2 linked regions of the Homo sapiens genome follow. The protein of the gene in region 1 purifies or fractionates together with the protein of each later gene. This does not show direct contact. Each region holds a gene or a part of one and is shown in the gene's direction. Other genes may lie near its edges.

Region 1 (2,727 bases):
TCAGCCTTGCCAGAAAAAAATTTTGAAAATATGTATTACAAATCCTAAAAATATTGCAACCATTCTGATTCGGAAAGATTTGTGCAGATAGACACTTTTACTTATAAATACAGAAACAAGGAAAGGAAATAAGCAAAATATGCTCAACTTTCGCAAACAGGGCACTGGTCAAATAAATTGTAGCTCATATGTTACATGGAAAACTATGCAGAAATTGAAATAAAGTGATCTAAATAGAGTTAATGAAAGAAAAAATATTTCTAACTTAATAAAAATATTATGTTATATAACAGTATCAAAAATATCAGCCATATTTGCTTGTTTAAACAAGACTAGAAGGAATATGACTAAAATGCTGGCTAGATAATGCTGGACTGCTTACACCTGTAAATTGCATTCTGTGGCTAAGCATTGCCATCAATATATTTATTTAAATGCTTTTTTTCTTAGCCCATATTATATATAACTTTATTTATCTGGACAGGGAGATGGATACAGGGTATGTCAGTATGATTTTCAGAAATTTAGCTCCCTACTGTCACCCGACAACCAGAACTCTGAAGACAGTGAAGATTCTATCTCCAGATATGGATCCAACTGTTGCTCAAGATGTGGGATCTAACTTTATTGCTGTATGTTACTTAATAAAATTTACAAAAGGATATTACCAAGGATATCATGCATTATTTGCTAGCCCATACTTATTAAAAGTTTTAATATAATGTGCATATCTATTTGTGCCTAAACAGTATAAGTATCTTGTTGTAATAATTTTTTAAATGACTGGATATAAAGTTCATCAAAAATCTACTGTCGAAGTGTCCCCGTAGAAGAAGTTTCTGAAATGGGGTTGTGATCAGGGATGGGAGAGTCCTCCTCTAGGCATTGTTATTACAACTCTTTTATAAACTCTTTTATAAGTTAACTCGAGTTAATAGGAAGTAAAAGCATAATGTTGAATTTCTTCATTGTGCTTTTCTTTTATTTTCCAATGCTTTAAAACACCTCTAATTCTGATTTCAAGTATTGGAATAGGGTTTAGCACAGTATTCCTCACATACTCACCTTTCAATAAACCACGAATGAGTTTGAGTCCCATGTACTATGGTGAGATTGACACCTCTCCAGACGGGGACTGAATTTTTAGTGAACATATGACCCTCAGGACTCATATTGAAATTGAGGTCACAAAACTTTGTAAACTTTTTCATGTGAAGTATTGATTATCAGATTAAGTATCCCCCATCCTCCATTTATGTAACTGATTTTTCCCATAAACGTAGATGTAGAACTTTATTTTATCCTTGTTCCATTTGATCCTGTTTGTTTTCGACCATCTTTGTAATCTGCCGGTCTTTCAAAGTATTGCTTAGATAATATAAGTCTTTTATAATTCCCCTTTGCTAATACAGTATCTGGAGAAGCTTCTAGTCTCTTGCATCAGTACAAGAGGTGGGAGTACTGGATCTACCCGGGTTATTCAGAGTGGCCAGAGGCAACTAACAACTACAGGCAAGTGAGGATTAATATAAATGACTTCTGTGCTCCAGGTGTCTAGTGGTTTCCAATGTTGAGTAAACTCCAGATTTCTCAGTCTGCCTTTTAAGTTTCTTCACAGCACATTCTTAATTTTCCTTTTTGTCCTTATTTTAATTTTTTGTCCACTACAAACCTTGTACAGGTGAATTCTAGATTGTGATTAACAATTTTTATTTGAGACTAATAAGCCAGTGTATTTCACTGTTTGCTAAAACATCACATTGACCAGGATCAGGAAACAAAAATCCTTCTTGATAAACAGCATTTTAAAAATAACAATTGTTCTGCAGCTCTGTAAACCCTATTTCCCTTCATTAAAAAACCCTTACAGTTATGAACAAGTAAAGACTGAGAAATATCAGATCAAAGCTTGTCAAAGAGACAAGATACCTATATGGAGTACGGTATATTGGATTGGACCCTGGAACATAAAGTAATACTAACAGAAAAGATAATAAAATCTGAATAAAATGGCAAAATCTGAATAGTTTAACAGTGATGTATCAATTTTGGTTTCTTATTTTGACAAGTATGTATGCTAATGAAGGATGAATATATTAGAAGAAACAAACTGAGAGATGGGTGTGTGAAAAACTCTCTTTAGCATCTTTGCAATTTTTCTGTAAGCCTAATATTGTTCCAAAATTTAGAAGTTTATTTTAAAAAGAAACACGTTGTTAGTTTTTCCTTACCAAATATTTTAAGAGAAGTTTGATTTATTTTACTGGCTTTCATAAAATAAAGATATATTTTCCCTTCCTTTATAGTTACAATAATATGTACAGCTAACACTTGACTTTTTTGAATATTTACCTGAATTTTTTTATTATCATGATATTCATGAATTGATGCTGTTTTTATTTAGCTAATTGATAAGACAGAGATGAAGTGAAGTATAATTAACAAAATTGATAAAGTTAGTGCTTTATATACTTAGCAACTCTAAAAAATTATGCCAGCTCTTTTGAATATCACCATTTGGTGCCAGCAAGAATAAGTGGACATCTCCGTGTGCTTGGTAGAGAAGCGGGCCTATAGGGCAGGTGTATTCATTTTCTCTTAGAAGCATTCCTCAGATCAAGATTGCCTTGTGTGATTTTCATGTTTCATAGTCACACTTCATGAAAACCAATGGCCCCCGCCTTCCCAGAATTAGTGACAATACACAATATGCCTTTCAACAAAGAT
Region 2 (3,500 bases), on another chromosome or scaffold:
TCCCCCGCCACCTCCCAGGCACCGTAGTTGTGAGAATCAGATGTGATCATGTGTGCAGATGTCCTGTGAGGAGGGAGCATAAAGCACTGTGAAAATGTAGCATGCTGTCTATGTGGACGCCCTAGGATGAGTGATGTGAAACGCTGCACTACTGCGGTGAATGGGTTCACACATGGGTAATGAGCAAAACCGAAAGCTCGGTGTGACTCAGTTTCCTCACTCCCATTTTGCTTTAATTTCACTTCCTTCACCAATTTTCCGATTGCATTTATTAAGCATCTTTCTGCTCCCGACTTTCTGGTGTCTCTGGCACCAAATAACCCAGCAGACATGAGCCTTGCCTTCTGAGATTTTAGAATCTAAGATAGCACGAGTGGGTATAGAAGATGGAAGATACCGATAAATAACATGGTTTAAGTGTCAATAAAATTCATTCGAAGAGATCAGGCGCGGTGGCTCACGCCTGTAATCCCAGCATTTTGGGAGGCTGAGGCAGGTGGATCACTTGAGATCAAGAGCTTAAAACCAGCCCAGGCAACATGGCAAAACCCCGTCTCTACAAAAAAATACAAAAACTAGCTGGGTGTGGTGGCGCATGCCTGTAGTCCCAGCTGAGGCACGATAATTGCTTGAACCCGGGGGGTGGAGGTTGCAGTGAGCTGAGATTGCACCACTGTACTCCAACCTGGGCGACAGAGCAAGACTGTGTCTCAAAAAGAAAAAAATTTGTTCAAAAGACATAAATGAATTAGGCACCCAGAAGAAGTTGCATGTTTGGAAATGCAATATCTTGGGGAGACGTCAACTTCTGAAGTGACTTTGAAGGCAGGGCAGCTACCCAGGCAAATGGCGTGGAAGGAAGAGCTGAGAGTGGGCCTGGGAAAGGCTGTAGGGAAGGAGTGAAGCTGTCACTGAAATGAACTTGATCTTGATCTGCTTTGATATGGGGACAGAATCCCCGACTGCACTATTGAGGGAGTTTCAGAAGAGAAGGAAGAGGTGCTGGAAGGATGCTTTTGCAGTCATGCAGCAAGGAAACGACCAGGGCTGTGAAGATCTACAGAGGAAGTACTCCAGTGTGGGGGAGGCAAGGGAAGAGGACGAAAATGATGAGAATGACACTGAGGTCATTGTTTAGAGCAGATCTCAAGCAGCCGTTTGGCCACGCCATATCCTTTGTGGAGCATAGTGGGTTATCTATCTGTCTGTCTGTCTATGTATCTGTCTATCTATCTATATATATATTCAGCTTCTTTACTGCTACCTACACATTTTTCTCCAAATTTTATTAATTTCATAGTGTTTTGATTTGGGTGGCAGATGACTTTTAAGCAGTGGGTGTTTGCCGGCCAGATCTTTCCTGGCATGCGGACTGTGAGGCAAAGCACGGGTGAAGGTAGGCGCTAAAGGCTTTGGGCTAAAGCCAGCACGCGGTTCTGTGCTATAGGAGTCTCCCGTTTCCCGTGGACAGGTTCAGCGTTCCTTCTTTCGCACAACTTTTTTCTAAGTGTTCCAGTGACCAAGCCAGTCATTCGGACACTGATTTGCAGTGCATTGGCAGTAATTCACAAATTAGTTGTTATATAAGTCTCTCTCATCCCTTTCACACTAGATTCTCAGACATGAATGAATTTGTCGTTTGGAAGGAAAGCTGGGTAACGTTTTGGGCACAGGGGAAGGAGGACTCCGGTCTTAACTCCCACGCTAACTTTAGCTCAAGTGGAGTTTTCACCGTGGTCATTTCTACCTCCGGAGCAAGGTGCCAGCGCCAGTACTAGAGCCTGCTTATCCACATTTGCCCTGGACAGGAGCAGGAGGAAGTCCACTTCTGTACCGGCAGACAGAGCATGTGAACACAAAACACATTTCTATGGCATAGTCAACTGAACTTCATTTTTACATTTAATCTAACATGTTAACACGTTCTAACAGGGTTTCTATGAGCAGCTGCTGTAACATACTCATCAACTATGATAGACTTAACACTTGTTACCTAATGAACAAGGAGGATGTGCATTTCGGGTTTCTTTTGATATTCGTGGAGGTGATTGTCAGTGTTTAAACAGGACTACTTTCTCCACTATGAAGATGACTTGGAAATCGCAACATCATGGTACATTGCTAAGTCCATGCTTGTGTGTGTGACAGTAGGCTTGATAATTTATCTTAAAACACAGCAGCATTGAAATTTAGGAAAAGAATATTAAATGCCTTTGGAAACATGAAACAAAGTTAGGAGCCAGTAAGAAAGTGACAGAAGCAATGAATGTCTTAATGCAGTATAGTTAAAATGGCTTCCCACAGGGTAGATAATTATCCAGGATCCTTCCTTTTCCTTCTTCCTCCAGGTTTTTCAGGGGTCACTTCACATTTCTAAAGAAAGAGTGAATAGGCTGGGCATGGTGGCTCAAGCCTCTAATCTCAACGCTTTGGGAGGCTGAGGCAGGAGGATCGCTTGAGGCCAGGAGTTTGAGACCACCTTGGGCAACATAACGAGACCCCGTCTCTACAAAAAAAATTTAAAAATTAGCTGAGCATGGTGGCATGTGCCAGTAGTCCCAGCTACTCGAAAGGCTAAGACTGGAGGATCGCTTGAGCCAATGAGTTGGAGGCTGCAGTGAGCTATAATCACGCCACTGCACTCCAGCCTGGGCTGCAGGGTGAGGTCCTGTCTCTGGAAAAAAAAAAAAAAAAAAAAGGAATAGGTAAAAGGGACAGAGGTGAAATTTTGAGTGACTTGAGTCTCTTGCAGTCCCTGATTACACAGAACCTTTCTGGGCTACTTGGAGCATCACGAATAGTCTTTCCTGTACTTACCAGATTTCAAGTATTCATAACTTGACTCCCTAAGTGTACAAGTTGGGAATAGTACAGGGCCAAGTTCAAGTCGCATATGCTGTACTGTTCCTCCTGCAAATGTGGGGAAAGAAGAGGGAGATACTAGAGGAACTGAGGCTCCACCCATTCATTCAGTTGCTCTAAGCACCAGAGGACTTGTTTCAGAAAAGGGGAGTGGGAACGCCCTCGACTTTGCCCTCCTCCGGAGCATCTCTGGGACGCAGGGAGTCTGGCTAGCGTTAATAGGAAAGGTTGCTCGGCAGAGCTGCCCTGGAGTACTGACTTGTCTCTCCCTCCTTTGTCAAGGTCCATGTTTTTCTGGCTCTTCCTGCACACTCATCCCTAGATTATGAGCGTTAATGTACGAAATGTGCAGAGCAAATTGAGGCCAACTGTGGCATCAATACTGCAACTTAAACTTGACAATCATGGTTTGCTGGTCCTCAAACAGGCACTGAAATCTCAGTATGGGTATACGATTTAATAATCGGCCCCTCCCTTCTATTTGTCGGTTTTATGTTTCTATCCTTCAATAGCTGCACTGTTTTCTAATGTGCTGTAGAGTTTTTGAAATAATTTATGCAAGTATTTGGTTTCCATGTTTACAATTTATACAGCTTTCCTAGCATTTTAAATGGAAATGTCAATAAATGCTATGAATT

The links.
Region 2: the proteins of OR6A2 (region 1) and KIAA1549 purify together in Homo sapiens (affinity purification with mass spectrometry; one large-scale study listed by BioGRID and IntAct). This does not show direct contact.

The regions. Positions count from the first base shown.
Region 1 is NC_000011.10:6,791,236-6,793,962, reverse strand, and holds the end of OR6A2 (olfactory receptor 6A2), read left to right. Parts: 3' UTR 1-2,227; downstream 2,228-2,727. UniProt on the Homo sapiens protein: Odorant receptor.
Region 2 is NC_000007.14:138,831,390-138,834,889, reverse strand, and holds part of KIAA1549 (UPF0606 protein KIAA1549), read left to right. Parts: 3' UTR 1-3,500. UniProt on the Homo sapiens protein: May play a role in photoreceptor function.